2 separate regions of the Homo sapiens genome follow, and region 1 is linked to region 2. Evidence: fine-mapped expression QTL. A gene starts in region 2. The other region holds a variant in brackets. All regions are shown on one strand. Distances are from middle to middle. Region 1 overlaps ATP2C1 (ATPase secretory pathway Ca2+ transporting 1). Region 2 holds the start of ATP2C1 (ATPase secretory pathway Ca2+ transporting 1).

What was found. PIP is the estimated chance that this variant, and not a neighbour inherited with it, causes the effect.
Region 1: its variant is fine-mapped to the expression of ATP2C1 in whole blood (TOPMed, PIP above 0.99).

Annotation. Positions count from the first base shown.
Region 1 is chr3:130,933,922-130,939,310 of GRCh38, forward strand. It overlaps ATP2C1 (ATPase secretory pathway Ca2+ transporting 1), which reads left to right. Exons shown (of 28, transcript NM_001378687.1): 5 at 701-790; 6 at 3,507-3,542. Among named protein-coding and RNA genes, the nearest start is that of ATP2C1, 43 kb to the left of the region's middle. The variant T/C (reference allele first, on the strand shown) is at 2,707.
Region 2 is chr3:130,891,857-130,897,245 of GRCh38, forward strand. ATP2C1 (ATPase secretory pathway Ca2+ transporting 1) reads left to right here and starts at 2,228. Exons shown (of 28, transcript NM_001378687.1): 1 at 2,228-2,481; 2 at 2,734-2,919. The coding sequence starts at 2,914. It overlaps LOC107986023 (a long non-coding RNA gene), which reads right to left and starts at 2,065. Exons shown (of 3, transcript XR_001740492.2): 1 at 1,000-2,065. RefSeq lists an enhancer at 1,783-2,002 and a silencer at 2,093-2,482.

The DNA of each region.
Region 1 (5,389 bases), 42 kb after region 2:
TTTGCAACTTTGACAGTGATGTAACACTTTAGCAGAGGAAGAGATTCTAACATCAGAGTTTCAAGGAATAGAATGTCCAACTGGAAGAATTTGGGGTTGACTCTGGTGTGAGGTCATTTAAATGCTTTCTGATCAGGTTGATGCTATAGTCCTGTTTCTTTGATATGATTTGCTGTGGTAGATAGAAACCAGGAAAGCTAGCCTTGAGGAAAATCTTCAGTTTCTTTTGTGGAGAGGAGGGAATTTTTCTGTGATATGTGAGTCAACCACAGAATTGTAATCTACACCATTGTACTTGAGAAATGTTTGAATCTCAGTGTTCTATTCAGTATTTCGCCCAAATTTTTAGCTTAAAAATCATCTTCTCCTGCTTTTTCTAGCCTCAGTAGAAATTCAGAACAGCTGTATTTCTTAAATTAATATACCAAAAATTGCTGTATACTATAAGGAATTGGTTAATTCTTAGTTTTAAGTATTGCTATTTAATTTTTTTTTTCTGAAAAGGAACTGTTAAAAAGCTTTTAAATGTAGTTAAGTATAAACGCTTTTTTTGTTAATTGAAGAGATACATAAAATAAACTGAGTATAGACTTTTGTAATTTTCCAGTCATGCTCTTATGGTTTTTTTTTTTTAAAGCCTTTGCTGAGAGAACTGTCATGTACAAAACTGTGTTGAATTGCTGTTTGTTTTTACTTTCAGTTTAAAAATCCCCTTATTATGCTGCTTCTGGCTTCTGCAGTCATCAGTGTTTTAATGCATCAGTTTGATGATGCCGTCAGTATCACTGTGGTAAGAAAAAAATTACATATTTTTAATCTGTTGAGTAAGTGTATAAATTGGGATTGGTTTTTATTTTGGAAAATAAATTGAGAAGTGCTCTCAGATTTTTTTCAGTGTCCAAATTCTGCTTTTATTTTATTCTTTTTGTTGCGACAGTTTCTTGTTGTATTGCCCAGGCTAGAGTGCAGTGGTATAGTCATGACTCACTGCAGCCCCGAACTCCTGGGCTCAAGCTGTTTTCTGCCTCAGCATCCTGAGTAGTTGGGACTACAGGTGTATGCTAACACCCCCAGCAATTTTAAAATTTTTTTGTAAAGACAGGGTCTTGTTATGTTGCCCAGGCTGGTCTTAAACTCCTGGCTTCAAGTGATTCTCCCACCTTGACCTCCCCAAAGTGTCGAAATTACAGGTGTGAGCCACTGTGCCTGGCTCAAATTCTGCTTTTATTATAGTTACAGTAATTTTGAGTAATGTTCAAAAGTCCATGATTAGCACACATGAAAATTCTTTAACTGGTAATTTTCACAAATATGAAATTTTATAATTATCTGATTAAATTTTAAATTTATTTCACTTTGCAGTTGAGAATATATTTTGACTAGTTGTGAACTAAAGCCTGACATGTGAAATTAAAAATATTCCTTATAGTGCATGCTGTATTTACAGCATACATTTACTATATATGATTTTATTCTTTCCAGCTAGGTTATTCTAGCTTTCATTGAACTGTTTTCTCATCTTTTTCCTTCTTGCTCCATTTCATTTTTGTATAAAAAATTTGTAGCAAGTAAAAGCACTTATGCTTAAGAACACTGTAGATGTTATTGTAGAGATGCAGCTCTTGAACTATTGCTTGCAGTATCCCAGGTATCCCTGAGACCTGTTCAAGGGGTATGTGAGGTCACAACCATTTTAATAATACTAAAACATTATTTGTCTTTCAATTATAGACTTTTGGCATTAATGGCACAAAAACAATGGCAGGTGAAACTGTTAGAGCCTTAGCACAATTCAGAGTAATGGCACCCAACTTTGTTAACAGTCATTGTTTTCTTTCATGTTTCTTAAGAATGTTCTTGATAAAGCAGTAAAAATTAATTTTATTAAATCTGGACCCTTGAGTACATACCTTCATAATAATTTATGTAATGAAATGGGAAGTATGCATGAAACTCTTTTGTATATTGAAATACAATGGTTGTCTCAAGGAAGGGTGATGATTGTGAGGCAAACTAGCCTTGTACTTGAAAGACTGACTCATAGACAAACTATGGGTGTTAGGACTTGGGTAACCAGCAGATTCTTATTTTTGAAAGTGAATTAAATGAGCGAATCAGACCAAGGAAAGGCAACTGGCAGAATTTGTTGCTAATGATAAAATTCAGGTTTTCAAGCAATAATTAGGGTTTTGGAAAATTTGTATGCACTCTTATGGGCTGGATAGCATCCCAGTATTTAAGACTTTATTCCAATTAGATCAGTAGTGATTTCAACAAATGTGTGTTTTTTTTAAAAAAAAAATTGTTACGAAATGTGGTAACCTTGGGGAAGATTTGGGCAATCTTGGGGAAGATTTGAATAACCAAGTGAACCAATATTTCCCAGAAGACCAATGCGTGACATTACAAAATCTGAAATGGTAAAAGATCCATTCAAATGCAAGATAGGTCAATGGATTTCGATATAATAGATTATGAAAGGTGCATTGATACAGTTTTATATTCTACATTGCAGATTACCTTTAAGTAACTAGCACTTGAGTTTTGGTGTAGTAGCTAAGAAGAATATCCACAATCATCTGAAAAAGCTGTTAAAATACTCCTCCCTAGGCTGGGCATGGTGGCTCATGCCTGTAATCCCAGCACTTTGGGAGGCTGAGGCGGGTGGATCATGAGGTCAGGAGATTGAGACCATCCTGGCTAACA[T/C]GGTGAAACCCCGTCTCTACTAAAAATACAAAAAAAAAAATTAGCTGGGCGTGGTGGTGGGCACCTGTAGTCCCAGCTACTCGGGAGGCTGAGGCAGGAGAATGGCGTGAACCCCGGAGGCGGAGCTTGCAGTGAGCTGAGATCACGCCCCTGCACACCAGCCTGGGCAATAGAGCAAGACTCTGTCTCAAAAAAAAAAAAAAAAAAAACTCCTCCCTAAAAAAAATAAAAAAGAAAAAATGCTCCTCCCTTTTCCACCGTATCTGTATGGGGCTGGATTTTCTTCATACACTTTAGCCTGAACAATATGTTATAGTAAATGGAATACTAGCTTTCTAGAAAGTCATATATTAAAATATAAAAATTTAAAACACTGCTATTTTTCTCACAATTTTTTTGGAAAATTTATTTTTCATAAAGTTATTTGTGTTAGCATGTAATGAGGTTTAAAATTTTTTACATGAGTTGATGAGTAGAAATTAAAACTGACTAGTTGAAAAATTTGATATGGTAAATATCAGTATATATAACCCACTTAAAAGCTGGTCCTCAATTTGTGAGAGCATAAAAGGGCCCTGAGATCAAAAAGTTAGAGAAGCTGCCCTGGTAATGGCAAGCCACTGTAAACTGTTAGCTTCTTTCCCCACAGGCCTTAAGGTAAAGTTGTGATTTCTTTTCCAGCTGATCTCAGTGTTTAAAATCTGTTATTGTGGGACTGCAGATAGTTAGAAAAATAAAATACAGTTAACAGTTACTTCTCAAGTTAATGTCTGATTTAAAAGCCTGTTTCTTTTGTTTAGGCAATACTTATCGTTGTTACAGTTGCCTTTGTTCAGGTAAGTACTCTATTTTGCCAACATGAAAATGGTATGTTAATTGCTTAAAAATCAAGGTGTCTTGTGGTAGAACCTACCGTTATTGGGGGGTTGTAATGCCCATCAGAACAACTTATTCTTTGTTTTTCAAGTAATTTCAGATACAGACAACTCTTCAGGGAAGCTTGTGGTGTGGGACTAAGGAACTGCTTTGATTTAGGTAGTGAGATGAAGAAAATCTAGTTTTTTATTTGATAATGTTAAGGATAACTGAAGCAGATGGAAACAAAAAGCATAGTAATAGAAATAAAATCCAGCAGTAAACTTTTTTATTTTTTCAATTAAAAAATTGGACCAGAGTTTATAGTTTCATAACACTGTTATGTTTTAATGCCTACTAGAGCTAAGTCTAGATGAAACAAAAAAGTATAGAATTAAAAGGTCGATCTGTGATGTACCATTTGAAGAAAATTCCACAGGTTTCTGTGACTGATTCCCTTAGCCAAATGCTACACTTGTTTGCTGAATTTATCACTTAACCTTATTTTATTTGAGTCTGTTTTGAGGAATTAAAATGGTTCTACTCATTGTTGGCATGACCTCCTCTCCCCTCCCTTTAAAACAATTTCTCATTCCTCCACAAAAGGGGTGTTGTGATCTGAATCAAAGTAATTCAAACAGTAAATAAAACATATGTAAAGTAGCCCCTTTTAAAAATTACTATGAATAATGTGGAGATACTGTCAAGATTTCTATTAATAAGTACAGACAAATAAAAATGTAGGCTTAGTTTTATGTTTATTTAAATATCTGAAACTTCTGTAGATTTTAGAACAGTGTTTCACAATATCAGCAGATTTCCTTTTTAGCTAGAACATGGTTAACAAGAATAGAATTATTCTAGCTTAGAGAAAAATGTAATATTGTTGCATAAGCCTGAAGTTCGTGCTGTTTTGAATCTGAAGCCTATACTTTGAATAACTATGGTTGTTCTTACATCTACGATTTATTACGTGGGTATTTCTTGTCACTATCCCAGCCTCTTAAGGTAATCTCTAACCTAGTTGTTATTAGTTCTGTAGTAACCCAGTGTAGAAAGCCAGTTGGAATCAGATCATTTGCAGTAGGTTTGTGAGCTCCATTAGTAGACTATCAGGGTTCCGCTTTTAGGGGAATCTTCTTGCTTAGACAAATGTTGCCCATGGTCAGGTGGAGCTGGTTAGTCTAGCATAGGTCATGTCAGGCTAACCATTATTCAAGGCAGCTATTCATTCAGCCAAGTGAGTGATATGACCCACTGGACCACTAACTGGACCTTCTTGCGTCTTTAAGAATGTGTCAGATATGTGGAGTGCCCTACTTCAGAAGGATTCCTGCAAATAGTATCACTATGTATGGAAGACCTTAGTACCTTGTTCTCTTTGATCACTAGAAAGCCCATGTTTTCAAAAAACACCACAAAATTGTGATTTTAACATAAGTCAATATGGAATTTTACACAAGATAGTGTTGTTATACACATTAAATGCTATGGCTGAGACTATTAAATATGTTTATGATAGGTACATTTGATAGAAATCTCACAAAAGGATGAAAACTTTATAAAAAGCCTAGTTTCAAATTGCTAGGTCTGATTCTTACACACATGTGACCCATCACCAAATATGCCTGTGAAACCAACAAAATAGTCTATAAACAAGTAAAAATCCTCTCCAAAAAGATCCTATTTACTGTCAGTTGAACTTATCATAATGCTTTAATCAAAAAGCTCTTTATCAAAAATGTATAAAAAATTCTTAATACTTTATCATTATTTGTTATTTGTGCTATATTACTTGTGTCTTAAGAGGGCTTTTTATATTCCTTTT
Region 2 (5,389 bases):
CATCCCTCATTGTCCACAGGGGATCGGTTCCAGAACCCCCTCAGACACCAAAATTTCCAGATGCTTAAGTTTTTTATATAAAATGACTAATTGGTCAATTCTTCTTGGTAAAGTTGATCTTGATCTTACCAGTTTCTTTTTTGGCTTAGTAATAGGAACAATGATTTTCATAATTTAGGGGACCAAAAGTAAAATTTCAGTTTAAGTCATTTTAGGAATAAACCATGGAGCTATAAATCTTTTGGAGGAGTTATAGATTCAGTGTTAATGCTAGAGTATTGCAGTATATTAATACAACAGATAGTTCTGAAAAGTTGCTTTAGAAAAATGTTTCAGCTAAAGTGACCCAATACCAAATTCTGTACAGTTACCCTCTATTTTGTAAATGCATATGTTAATATCAAAGTATTTATATTGTGTAATTTCCTACCTTAGGTGCTTTTGTTTTTAATATAATGCTGTTTCAAGGTCGAATATGTACAGTAATAACTGTTACAAATTGATTACGAGAGATCACAATCATTGTACAAATCACAGGCTATGTCATTGTGTAGACAAAAATCACTGACCATGCATGCCAGAGGTGGATCATAAATAGTAACTCCTAAGACTAGAAATCTACTTGATATTTTTATGGGTTCATCTTTAAAAGTGACCTCGCTGAATAAAAGTTCAATATTTCTTAAAAGAAAGGTAAATCTAAAAACCGTCCAGAATTTTCGATCCTAGTCTAGTACCACTTACTTGGGAACAAATATAGAAGCACAGGCAACCCCGTCCGTTAATTTGGCTCCGTCATTGTGCAGACAAAAATCACTGACCATGCATGCCAGAGGTGGATCATAGTTAACTCGTTAAGACTAGAAATCTACTTGATAGTGATTTTTATGGGTTCATCTTTAAAAGTGACCTCGCTGAATAAAAGTTCAATATTTCTTAAAAGAAAGGTAAATCTAGAAAGCTGTCCAGAATTTTCAATCCTAGTCTAGTACCACTTACTTGGGAACAAATATAGAAACACAGGCAACCCCGTCCGTTAATTCTGATGTTGAACGTGTGGTTAGAGAGCACACTGCGATATGTTACAGGACCTGAGATAAAAAGCAAATTTGTAAAGTGTCTAAGTGTTGATGGAGAAAAACACATCTAGCATATACGGAAATTTTCTTTTGAGTTCTCTGTAGGATGATCACCAACTCAGTAGGTGAAGCCCTGCCCTCTAGTGGTTATGGGTGTGAGAGGACTTCTGTTCAACATTATATGTCTGGCTCACCACGGTTTATTAAAACCAATCGTTCATTAAAAAGCACTTATTAGGGGTCTGGGTAAGATGCCGAGCAAGTGAAATGTTTACGTGTGAAAAGGCATTGACACTGGACAAAGGTACAGCTGCTAAAAGAAGTGCTCGTTCATTGGCTTCGACAGCTGTACGACTGGTTTCTAATTGCTGTTCCAGCCTCTCCCCAGTTCCATATACCACAAACGAATGAAAAAGATTAGCTCTCCCTGGAGCTCTCTGAGGCTGAACCTTGCTCTCTCATTACACATGGTAACTAAGCACACCCCTTAAAGAATTTTGGGAAGTCGCCCCGCGATTACCGGCTCCCCCAAGAACCAAGCAGTCAGTGCAGGGTTTTGCAAGTGAGAGTGCGAGACTCGGGAGGCTGCTCACGGTGCTCCAGTCCCTGGCAGGAGCATGGACACCTCGCCCCTTCCTTCCGTGGGCCTCAACGTTGCCTGCTGAGATTGTGACTGCCACCCCGACGGGAGCAGCTTCCCCTACAGACTTTGTAGAGAGCGCTTAAACGCCTCGGGGACAGCGGCCATGACTCTCAGCTTGGGCCGACCCCGCGGCCGCCCCACGGGAATGCGTGGCCGACACGGGGCGTGGGCGAATCTCCGACCCTCGCGTTCAGGGGGTGCATATAAACGGGCGGACACCGTCCCTGGGGTAAGGGAGGCGCCAGCAAGAACAAGGCGGGCCACCAACCCCGAGCGACCTCCTACCGGACGGATCCAAACCCAAACATTGTCCATTCCGGGCCGAAGTCTCGGCCTTCACTTCACTTCCGCCTTCCCAGCCCGTGAACACGAATGCGCCTGCGCGCACCTCTCTCAGCGGAAGTAATAGTGACAAAGCTGGGTTCGCGGCTGGCCCAGGAGTGCGGGGCGCGACTGGGCGGCCGGCGGCGGGGAGGGGCGGAGCGCAGGAGTCGGAGGCGGGAGCAGACCAGCACGGCCTCGCGGAGCCGGCCCGGCGGACCGTGACGGGTCCCCTCACCTCCTCTTCTCTCCCCTCCCCGCCCGCCCTCTCTCCCTCCCTTCCTCCCTCCCGCTCGCTTCTTCTCACGCCGGGAGCAGGCTCCCGCCTCGCACCGCTGCCCCGCGAGCAGCTCCTCTTCTCCCGAGGCGCGCGGGGCGCCCCCGCGAGCCCCGCGGCTGAGACCCCGCAGCCTGGAGGAGGGCTGTCCGGGGCTTTGGGTGGGTACCAGTATTACCTCCTGCCCCCATTTCTAGAAACTTCCAGGTTCTGAAGGAAGGGGAGGTTCGGGTATCCCCTGGATGGGGGGGCATCTCTAGGGCGCCGCCCCGCTGGCGTGAGCTGGGGACGTTGCGGGCACACGACGGGGCGGGTGCGGGATCTTGGGGAGGGGGGCTCCCGAGATAGTGGCTGGGCGGGGAACTCCTTCCTCAGCCTCTCGTCAGCGCCGCTTCTCCTGGTTTCTCTTGCAGATGCTGCTGCTAGGGGTGGTGGGAGCAGCCGTGGGACGCGTGGCCGGGAGCGGGGGTGACAGCCTGGGATTCCGGGGGCTTCTCTTCCTTGTCCTCCTCCTCTCCTCTCTATTCCCAGTGTGGCCGTGGCTGACACTAAAGACTTTGTAGCCATCAACCCGAGTGCAGTTTCGATGGAAAATGAAGGTAAAGGCCCCTGGCCGACCGGTTGCAACGCGGAGTTGAGGGTGTGGTGGTTTGCTTTTAAGTTGTCTTTGTTTTTCCACCTTTTTATTTTCGTGAGCTTATTTATTTACTGTGTATGTGAAGTGTCCAAGGATTTGCTTACTTAGGGTATCCAGCTTTTATTTTGGTAACATGGGGCATTTGAGAGATTGAGGTTCTGTGGGTGACTGAGCTTGATTCAGCTTTCTTGAGGAATTCCTGCTCTCTTCAGCTTAGGGAATGAGAGGGAAGTTTTCATTTCAGATAGCGTCTGTGCATGTTTAAATAGCTATTTGAAAGGAATTACTCGAGGGGAAGTGGAAATGGGGGACAAGGGGATGGGGCTGCATCTCTGTATATTGGCGTTTCAAGCCTCGATGTGGTGTGTGGCAGGATTCATTTATAAGAAAGCAAGCCATGTTTTATTATGTCTAGCATTGGGGAAAAAACTCATTATTTTTCAATTCACAAAAAAAACCCAGTGAATTTAATGAAATGTTATGAGATGAGTGCTTTTCTTAAAGTTCCACCCTATTTCAAAACATCATTTAGGAGGCTGACAGCGGAACCTGTTTGTTCACTGTACACTTTGGACACATTAGATCGTCATTCACATGTTACATGATCCCTTTGGCCTCGTTAAAATATTTAATGCTTTTCCTACACAGCACTGATTATTTTTAAAATTGTTGAACAACTGTGAATAAGTGATTTTTTTTCCCCCTCCTGAAACAACACTTATTCTTTGGACTGACTTCTGACTTGTGCGTGATCATTTTTTTTTCTTCTGCCTTTAACCGGGCTGCAAAATACTATAAAAGATACTTAACAAATGACAGTTTTTTCCTCTGGTATAATTTGTTTTAAAAAATATGTGTCTGGTATAAAGGAGCTGCAGTCTTGCTGGCTGCTTCTAATTTGTTTTTCCATTGTTGAGAATGTAAGCTTGATTGTCTGACTAGGACTAGTAATTTTGAAATGGGTGTTTCTTATAGATGCAGTAATGTGTTTTGCTCTCTGAGACCTCTGGGCTATGTAGGGAATATGATGAGAGGCATGATTATATTGACAAATTTTACTCTGGATGGATAATTGGCGGAAGACATTTTCTGAAATACTAAAGTGTATAACTGCAGAGGAGTTATACTGTCTAATTGGGTCTTGAGAAACATTTGAAAGCAGTGATGTTTTTGGTGATAAGGAAAGTCACTTTTCTGAGCCTTTTTCCTCTCTTTTAAGTTTATTGATTTAAGAAAGGCAAATCCATTCTGCACATGAGACAAAGAATGTTAAATGCATTCATATACTTGTTTCTTGGTAGAAACATCTTAAATAACTTCTAACATTTAATGTATGTTTATGAGCTTGTTTTCAGAATGGTACCAGATTTAAGAGGGTAGCCTAAAGTAGGTGGATTCTTTCATGTTGCTTTTGTTTCTTGATCTCTCAGGAGGAAGAGCATGAGTAATAAAGCCGATTCTCATTATCTACTGAGGTGGGAGGGGGTGGTTGTGAGATAGGAGAATGGTGCCTACTTGTGTCTGTCTCTGTATTTTGTGGCCAAATATGAATTTTGTGGTTTCATAGTAAAAGATTATACAGTTCTTAAAAACGTGTGGGGTTTTCTGTCCCGTTATTCTTGACCATCAAGAGACCATTTTTGTCAGTTTCTCCCTATCGTCACATTTTTTTTTATATATAAACAGTTTGAAGAAGAGCCTGTATATAGCCTAGAAATTTTCAAAAGTGACTGACCATATTAAACTACATAGATTGATACCTGTGCCTTTTTATTGTTCACTTGCCTTTTTGTAGTTTTCATCCTTCTTTGATATAGTGTAGTATTAACAATTTGGAGGTGTGAAACAAAAATGGATTCAAGTCTTGACTAACTTGTCTTGAACCACTTAAAGCTGTGTGATTTTAAGTAAATTACGTCACCTTTCTGAGCCTGTATTTCTTCATCTATAAATTGGGATTGATAATCTTTAACTCACAGAATTGAGAGGATTAAATGAGAAACCCTGTATAAATTCTCTTGTGAGGTAGGAATGATAACGTTTAAGAGCTTGAGTTGTGGTGGAACCATGCAGACTGATTTGAATGCTGGATTCGTCGCTTACCATTTGGCTTTGTGCATATTAAAGTTTTCTGTGCTTCCGTTTCTTCATAAAATAAAGATAATGATAGAACCTACCTTATGAGGTTGTTGTAAACATTCAAACAGTATCTGGCACATAGTAAGTGCTCGGTAAATGTTAATTATAAATTGCCTAGCTGAATGTTTGATACATACTAATAGGCCACCTGGCATTAATATTGTCATGACAGTTAAATGTTGGAAGGGGGAACAGTAGTAGCCAAATGCTCAAAATGAAGTTGTCATTGTTAGTTGAGGGATAAGTGGAGTTAGGTAAGGAATTTTCTATGGCATTAGTGCTTTTAAGCCTAC